2 linked regions of the Homo sapiens genome follow. The protein of the gene in region 2 purifies or fractionates together with the protein of the main gene of each other region. This does not show direct contact. Each region holds a gene or a part of one and is shown on either strand. Other genes may lie near its edges.

Region 1 (3,500 bases), 160 kb from region 2:
GCCAGCATAAGAGATTCAAACTTAGATTCCCGAGCAACAGAATGACAGATCCGATGCTGACTATTCTCGCACTGGAACAAGGCAGCTCCGTTGACTTCAAGCCTAAGAATGCATGCCTCCCCTGACCAGCTCTCTGAAGGAGACCAAGCAGGGATTCCTAAAGAGCTCAAAGAACACCTGTGCAACAAAACTGCACATTCTGCCCATGTACCCCAGTATAATTAAAAAAAAAAAACCACCTAATTAATGATAAATCCAGAGCGCCATCCTTATATATGAAAAATCACGCTATCATTACCTAGTTTTAGGAAAAGAAGAAAATCAAAGAAGCAAGTAGGCTGAAAAGAGGAAAGTGGAGAGTTGAGTTTCTGACCCACTAGGTTCTGGTGACTGAGAAGCTTCTACACAGAAATGCCCTGAGGCCAAGTGACACAGCTGACTGTTGAGCTGAAGCCTGGTAATATTCCTCTGGGAATCAGCTAGAGTGAGGTGGAAGTTGTTGTACTAATATTCTCCATGGAGAGGGGAAAGAGGAGGAAGCTAAGGACTGCATAATGGAGAATATGTAGGGAATGGAAAAAGGGAAAGTAACTGAGGAAAGAGAATGAGGGATGGCCTTTCCACTCTCTCCCTTCTCTTCTCCTCCTTATTTTCCCTTCCCTTCTTTCTGCCTCTCTAACATTCTAACACTCTCTTCAGTCTCCTGCATTTTGTCCCTCTTTTACTCAAACAATCCACAGGCTTTGTCATTCCCTTGGGAGTTGTCTTATGGGGAGGAAGCTGTCCACTCCTAGCTTAATGGTTGCTGCCCTGGGTCAGACTCAGCACTGACCGCATTCACACTCAGCTCCAAATGAAAGGGAAAGTAGATGGCTTGGGATTTAGCCTTGACAGCCAGAGGCTACGAACCTGTCCCAATGGCTGGGAGGCAAATGGATGAGTAATTTTTTTTTTCACACTCCTGCAAAACAGAGGAAACTGAACTCTTGACATCATTTCCACCAATTACATGAATGATATTCTTGCACCTCAAAAATCCACCTCCGGTGATTATATAATCATTTTTGCGCTGCTGAGCTGGGAAACACAGACAAAAAGATGCAAAATTAGTAGAAGTTGAACCCGTCATTTGTTTAGAAAGCAAAATGTATAACTTGGCAAGTAAGCATTTTGTGAAAAAAAAAAAACTCCTGAAATACTATCTTTGATGGAATGCTATGACTTAACTTTACTTTTAACTGTGAGATTACTTTTCACTTCTAAGTGTCTGTGATTGGAATTCTTTAGTAAAATGTATCATTTTAAAATTAGAGTGTTGTCTCCCCAACCCTAAGACTTTTCTCAGCCTCTCCACAGCCTCCCATACAATTACAACTTAGGACCAAAAAATAGAATATGCCTTACCTTGCTGAGAACATTCCCTTTCTACATTTTGTCCAGCACATTCTAAAATTGCTTTGGAGACCCCTACATGAGAAAATCAAGATGATAACAAACATGAGTAAAAAACCACTATGGTATATTTGGATCAGAAGGATTATCTGAATGCATTCTCCATCATCTGAGGAATCCTCTAATTGGGTATTGCTGATGACAAAGAAGAAAACTTCATAAAATAAACATTATTAATTATGGAAAACCCTGTCAGCATAATTTAAAAGTTATTAATTAACAAGCCAAAGTTCTAAAAACCAGTTTGGCTATAGAAACCCTCCTTCATAGCATCTACCATTAACTATTGCACTCATCAAAATTGTACAAGTACCTGCTTTGAGATTGAATGAGTTTGATGTTGAATTTACAATCACATCTGCCTCTTCTTTCGTGATATCTCCAGAAGCCACCTGGAAGATGATGGAGCCAATCTTCATTTCATACACACCTGAATCAGGGCTAGAAACAGTCCCATAAAAACCTGAAAAGAAAAGAAGTAAAGTCAATAACCGAGTCAGCCACAGCAAGAATGACTTGGGTATCCTGCTCACATGGGACCCTCTTGGATGTCTTCCCTCTCCCTCTCTTTCTGTGACCTCTGGTCTTTAACCTGGCCCTGCTCCTCAGCCTCAGTGATGATCTGTTTAAGAAAAAAGAATTAGAACATAGAATCCATATCAAACATGAACTCTGGTGCTGACCAAGGTGAAGTTAGCGTACTATAGCCTATCTCTCCCGTTGATTACAACTAAAAACAGGACAAATACAAAAAGCCACCACCCAAGAGCTCTGAAAAGTTACAATAACAGCAGACAGATTGAAGAAAGGTGCCAAAACTTGCAGAAGCAATCTGCTAAGTGGGGCAGTTTTCCATTTTGTTCTGTTTTAAAATTTTTCCTCTTTTCTCTCCCAGCTTTGACCCAAGGGTGGCCCTAGTCTCACAACATAATATTTAAAATGTCAAGTCTGTATTCCAAAATTGCTTGTTATATAAAGAACCAGGAAAATTTGATCAACCCTTAAGGATAAAGAAAATCAAAAGCTGTCAATCCAGCCAGACACAATGGCTCATGTCTGCAATCCCAGCACTTTGGGAGGCCGAGGTGGGTGGATCACTTGAGTCCAGGAGTTCGAGATCAGCCTGAACAACATGGTGAAACCCCATCTCTACAAATAATACAAATATTAGCTGGGATGGTGGTGCACAACTGTAGTCCCAGCTACTTGGGAGGCTGAGGTAGGAGGATCACCTGAGCCCCCAGAGGTTGAGGCTGCAGTGAGTTGAGATTGTGCCACTGCACTCCAGCTTGAGTGACAGAGTGAGACTCTGTCTCAAAAAAAAAAAGATGTCAATCCTGGCCAGGCATGGTGGCTCATGCCTGTAATTCCAGCACTTTGGGAGGCCGAGGCAGGTGGATCACTTGAGGTCAGGAGTTCAAGACAAGCCTGTCCAACATGGTAAAACCTTCTCTCTGCTAAAAGAAAAATACAAAACTTAGCTGGGCGTGGTGGCACAGGCCTGTAATCCCAGCTATTTGGGAGGCTGAGCAAGGAAATCACTTGAACCCGGGAGGCGGAGGTTGCAGTGAGCCAAGATTGCACCACTGCACTCCAGACTGGGCAACAGAGCAAGACTCCATAGAAAAAAGAAAAAAAAAAAAAAAGATGTGAATCCCAAAAAGATGTGAATTATAGAAGACTTTAAAGCATCTACTATAACTATGATCCATGAGGTCAAAGTAAACACATTTGAATGGATGGAAATGATGTGGAATGAATGGAAAAATAGGATGTCTCTGCAGAGAAATAGAAACTATTTTAAAAAGACCTCAAACAAACAAACAAAAAAAGATAAAAATGAAACAAAAAGCTGGTTCTTTGAAAAGATAAAGAAAATTCATAGACCATTAGTGAGATTAACCAAGAAAAGAAGAGAGAAGATCCAAATAAGCTCAATTAGAAATGAAACTGGAGACATTACAATCAATGCCTCAGAAATACAAAAGATCATTCAAGGCTGCTATGAACACCTTTACATGCACAAACTAGAAACTCTAGAGGAAATG
Region 2 (3,500 bases):
TGGACCAAGAAAGATTGCTTCAGAAGGTATGAGTTTTGAATGTGATCTCAAGTTTCGATGGGTATGATTGGCAGGAGGGGAAGCTTTCTGGGTGGTCAGAGTGACTTGATCAGAGAGATGCAGAGGAATTGACAGAAAATAATGGGCTTGACTACAGTCAGGAGACACAGGTGGAGCTCTAAGTCATAGTCTGTGTGTTTATACACAGAATATAACTCTGCCAGGGGCTGTGGAGAATGCAAGGTGCAACTAAGCATTTAGCTGGGGGTCACTGGGCACAAAGGTGAGGATGCTGGCAGGGAAGGGGAAGGAGTCAGGGTAGCGGTGAACCTAGGTATTTCTGAGTCAGTGCAGCTCCCCTGCTAGACGGAGAGCACCTTAAAGATGGAGATCTTGGCTTATTCATCCCTATAGCCTCAAGGCCTGGTCTGGGCATGCATCTAAGGGTTCAGCAAATTAAAGATAAATAAGTGGAGGGGGCAGGAGGGAGAAGGCACCACAACAGAGGGTGAGAATGAATATAAGGCTTTATTCTTTTTTTTTCTTCTGGATCAGTGATGTCACACTTAAGACTCTCGTGACCACAATCAAATAGTCTTAGACACTGGTAAAACAAACAAACCAATAACACTTATTGCCTATAAGACAATTAGAGGGAAGACTGAGGGGAGTTCATGAAATGAAATATTTGAGAAGTCATTAACACACAAATTTAAAACTAAAATGGAAGCATCCTAGTTGAGTAACTTATCCCTTTAACTGAATTTTTTAAGGTATATTTATTGCCAGCAACGTTAGGAACATTACAATTTTTAAAGGGTGTCGGTGCCCCCAAATTGCAAATTCTAATTGTGCTTTCAAAATGAAGCATTCATTAACATCAGTGAAGAAATACCTGAGTTACCCTGAAAGGGAGCCAAAGTCAATAGAATGATTAGGGGAATCTGGGCATGGGGGAAGGAAGGACACTATCATTTTTAGCACAGCTCTGAGGGTTAACTAGGAGACGATGTTATCTAAAGTACAGCTCATGTATATGTACAGTCTATTTCTGAAGAGAGAGATGAAGAACTTGGTTGCACATAAGATGGGTGGGTGAGTGGGGGGGTCTGGGAACCTGACCAAGAAGGGGACCTACTTTTCATTGAAGACCTTTTTGTCCCATTTGGAGTTTCTTTAACCTTGTTAAGTTTCTTATACCTTAAACCATAAAAACATTAGAAGGTGGAAATTCTCCAAGAAATTTTATTTCCTATTTAAAACGAGACAAAACAAAAACCCACGACGAAATAGCAAAAAGTCATGGTGGTCGGGCAGAGATGAAACCATTTATCGACAGAACTTAAAACAAATCACAGGGAATACTCAGAATCTAGCCATCTGGTAAGGTAATACAGCAAGGGGCAAACAGATGTTTGCAATGAAAATTATATCATCCGTACATTTACATAATTTCTGAATTATGTAATTCAGCTTCGTTCATGGCAATCAAATAATCACTCTTTGGAAATACGAGTTTCTATTCATTATTAATGAAATTTTTTAGAATTTAGGATCTTCAAAGAGTATTTTTCAAAGCTCTTCAGGGAAGTAAAGATTTAAATTAGTCATTTAAGAAGAAGGAATTTAACAATGAATCCTACCCTTTCTTCCCTTTTCAGGCAGATGTAATTGTTAATTCTGTAAACCCACATGATATTACAGTTGGACCTGTGGCAAAGTCAATTCTACAACAAGCAGGAGTTGAAATGAAATCGGAATTTCTTGCCACAAAGGCTAAACAGTTTCAACGGTCCCAGTTGGTACTGGTCACAAAAGGATTTAACTTGTTCTGTAAATATATATACCATGTACTGTGGCATTCAGAATTTCCTAAACCTCAGGTAAGTTTAAAATAAATGTGGCTTTATTTAGCTCCATAGTCTATACAGTCTTTTTTTTTTAAACAAATTTCCATCATTTCATTACATTCATGAAATATTTTGTCAAGTGGTATAGTTCTCAATTTTTAGCACACCTGCGAGTACCAGAAATACTGAACAGGTACAGTTGCCATAAGTTATCTTAAGAAGTTTGATTTAGGTCTGTCGCAGTGGCTCATGCCTGTGAGTCCAGCGCTTTGGGAGGCCAAGGTGGGAGGATCACTTGAGCCCAGGAGTCTGAGACCAGCCTAAGCAACATAGCAAGACCCCCATCTCTACCAAAAAGAAAAAAAAAATTAGCCAGGTGTGGTGGTGCACACCTGTAGTCCCAGCTACTCGGGAGGCTGAGGTAGGAGGATCACTTGAGCCCAGGAGATTGAGGCTGCAGTGAGCTGTGATCACACTGCTGCACTCTAGCCTGGGTGACAGAGACTGTCTCAAAAAACAAACAAAACAACAAAGAAGTTTAAAATGTTACCTAACCCATGTCTAAATTTTAAGTAGGCATACTGCAGATAGACACTGAAACTAGTATTCCCTCAGTCTGAACACTGGTTCACCCCAACATACCCAGTGACCTCGTTGGCCTTTTCCTAAGTAGGCAAGGGATTCAGCCTCTTATGTCCCTCCATGTGTTATATTCCTGGAGCAGCTGGGGTTCCCCCTCCAGCATCATTCCAATCAAATCTATTACCTGAGGTCTCTTCCCACCCATGCCTGCAGTGGAGCCTGGCTGTCTAGCCCACTCTCCACTGAGGCACATAAAATACAAGCATTAACGAACTCAGGAGGCAAAGGTTGCAGTGAGCCGAGATCGCGCCACTGCCCTCTAGCCTGGATGACAGAGTGAGACTCTGTCTCAAAAAATAAAATATAAAATAAAATAAAATAAAAGCATTAAAGAATAGGAGGAACCCACTCAGATGGTGAAAAGAGGGAAACTTAATCCCCTTCTCTGCCTTTGTCTATCTTTCTTCTTCACCATTTCTGGTCCCTTCTTGAGAGCTCTCTAATCCCAAACTGGTCCTCTAGTCTCCCTCTATCCCTCAGTTTTCCAAAGTCCTTCCATGGGCAACATTCCTGTATTACTTTGATGTTAACAGTTGGTAGAAATTTAAATCTGCCAAAAATATTAGCATTTCTCCAAGAGAAATTACATGATAGATCTTAATGATGTTGAATAAGTGCTGCTTTCTTATTTTAATCTCGATCTCCTTTATGAAAATTCAAGGGCTCTTGACGTTGACCTGGAAGGGGCAGGTGAATGGGGTAAACAGATGGTTGGCTCTCTGACCTGGGGGGATGGGTAAGGCTATATAAACTGGGAGAAATTCTAGTGCCCTCATGTCCTGAATAGCACAAGATGGCCACTCTATTGCTTCAGTTTCTCACCATCTAACCTTATACCATAATGGGTTCCCTCTGGAGTGGGACCTTTCCTGTCATCTGAGGAGGCAGGGACACGAACCCTGAGGGAGGGTGAAGGTGGACATTGTAAAATATGGGCAGGATCAAGGGGTAAGTGGAGTCTTGTTCTTGACTCAAATGCTGATCTTAAATTTGTGTTTTCCTGCAGAT

What was found. The genes of interacting proteins can lie anywhere in the genome.
Region 1: the proteins of PARP9 (region 2) and PARP14 purify together in Homo sapiens (affinity purification with western blotting, with the first as the bait; one study listed by BioGRID). This does not show direct contact.

What each region holds. Positions count from the first base shown.
Region 1 is NC_000003.12:122,711,839-122,715,338, reverse strand, and holds part of PARP14 (protein mono-ADP-ribosyltransferase PARP14), read right to left. Parts: intron 2,075-3,500; coding exon of another isoform or gene 2,064-2,074; exon of another isoform or gene 1,916-2,063; coding exon 1,766-1,915; intron 1,468-1,765; coding exon 1,405-1,467; intron 1,078-1,404; coding exon 910-1,077; intron 1-909. UniProt on the Homo sapiens protein: ADP-ribosyltransferase that mediates mono-ADP-ribosylation of glutamate residues on target proteins. In contrast to PARP1 and PARP2, it is not able to mediate poly-ADP-ribosylation.
Region 2 is NC_000003.12:122,550,801-122,554,300, reverse strand, and holds part of PARP9 (protein mono-ADP-ribosyltransferase PARP9), read left to right. Parts: intron 1-1,661; coding exon 1,662-1,883; intron 1,884-3,498; coding exon 3,499-3,500.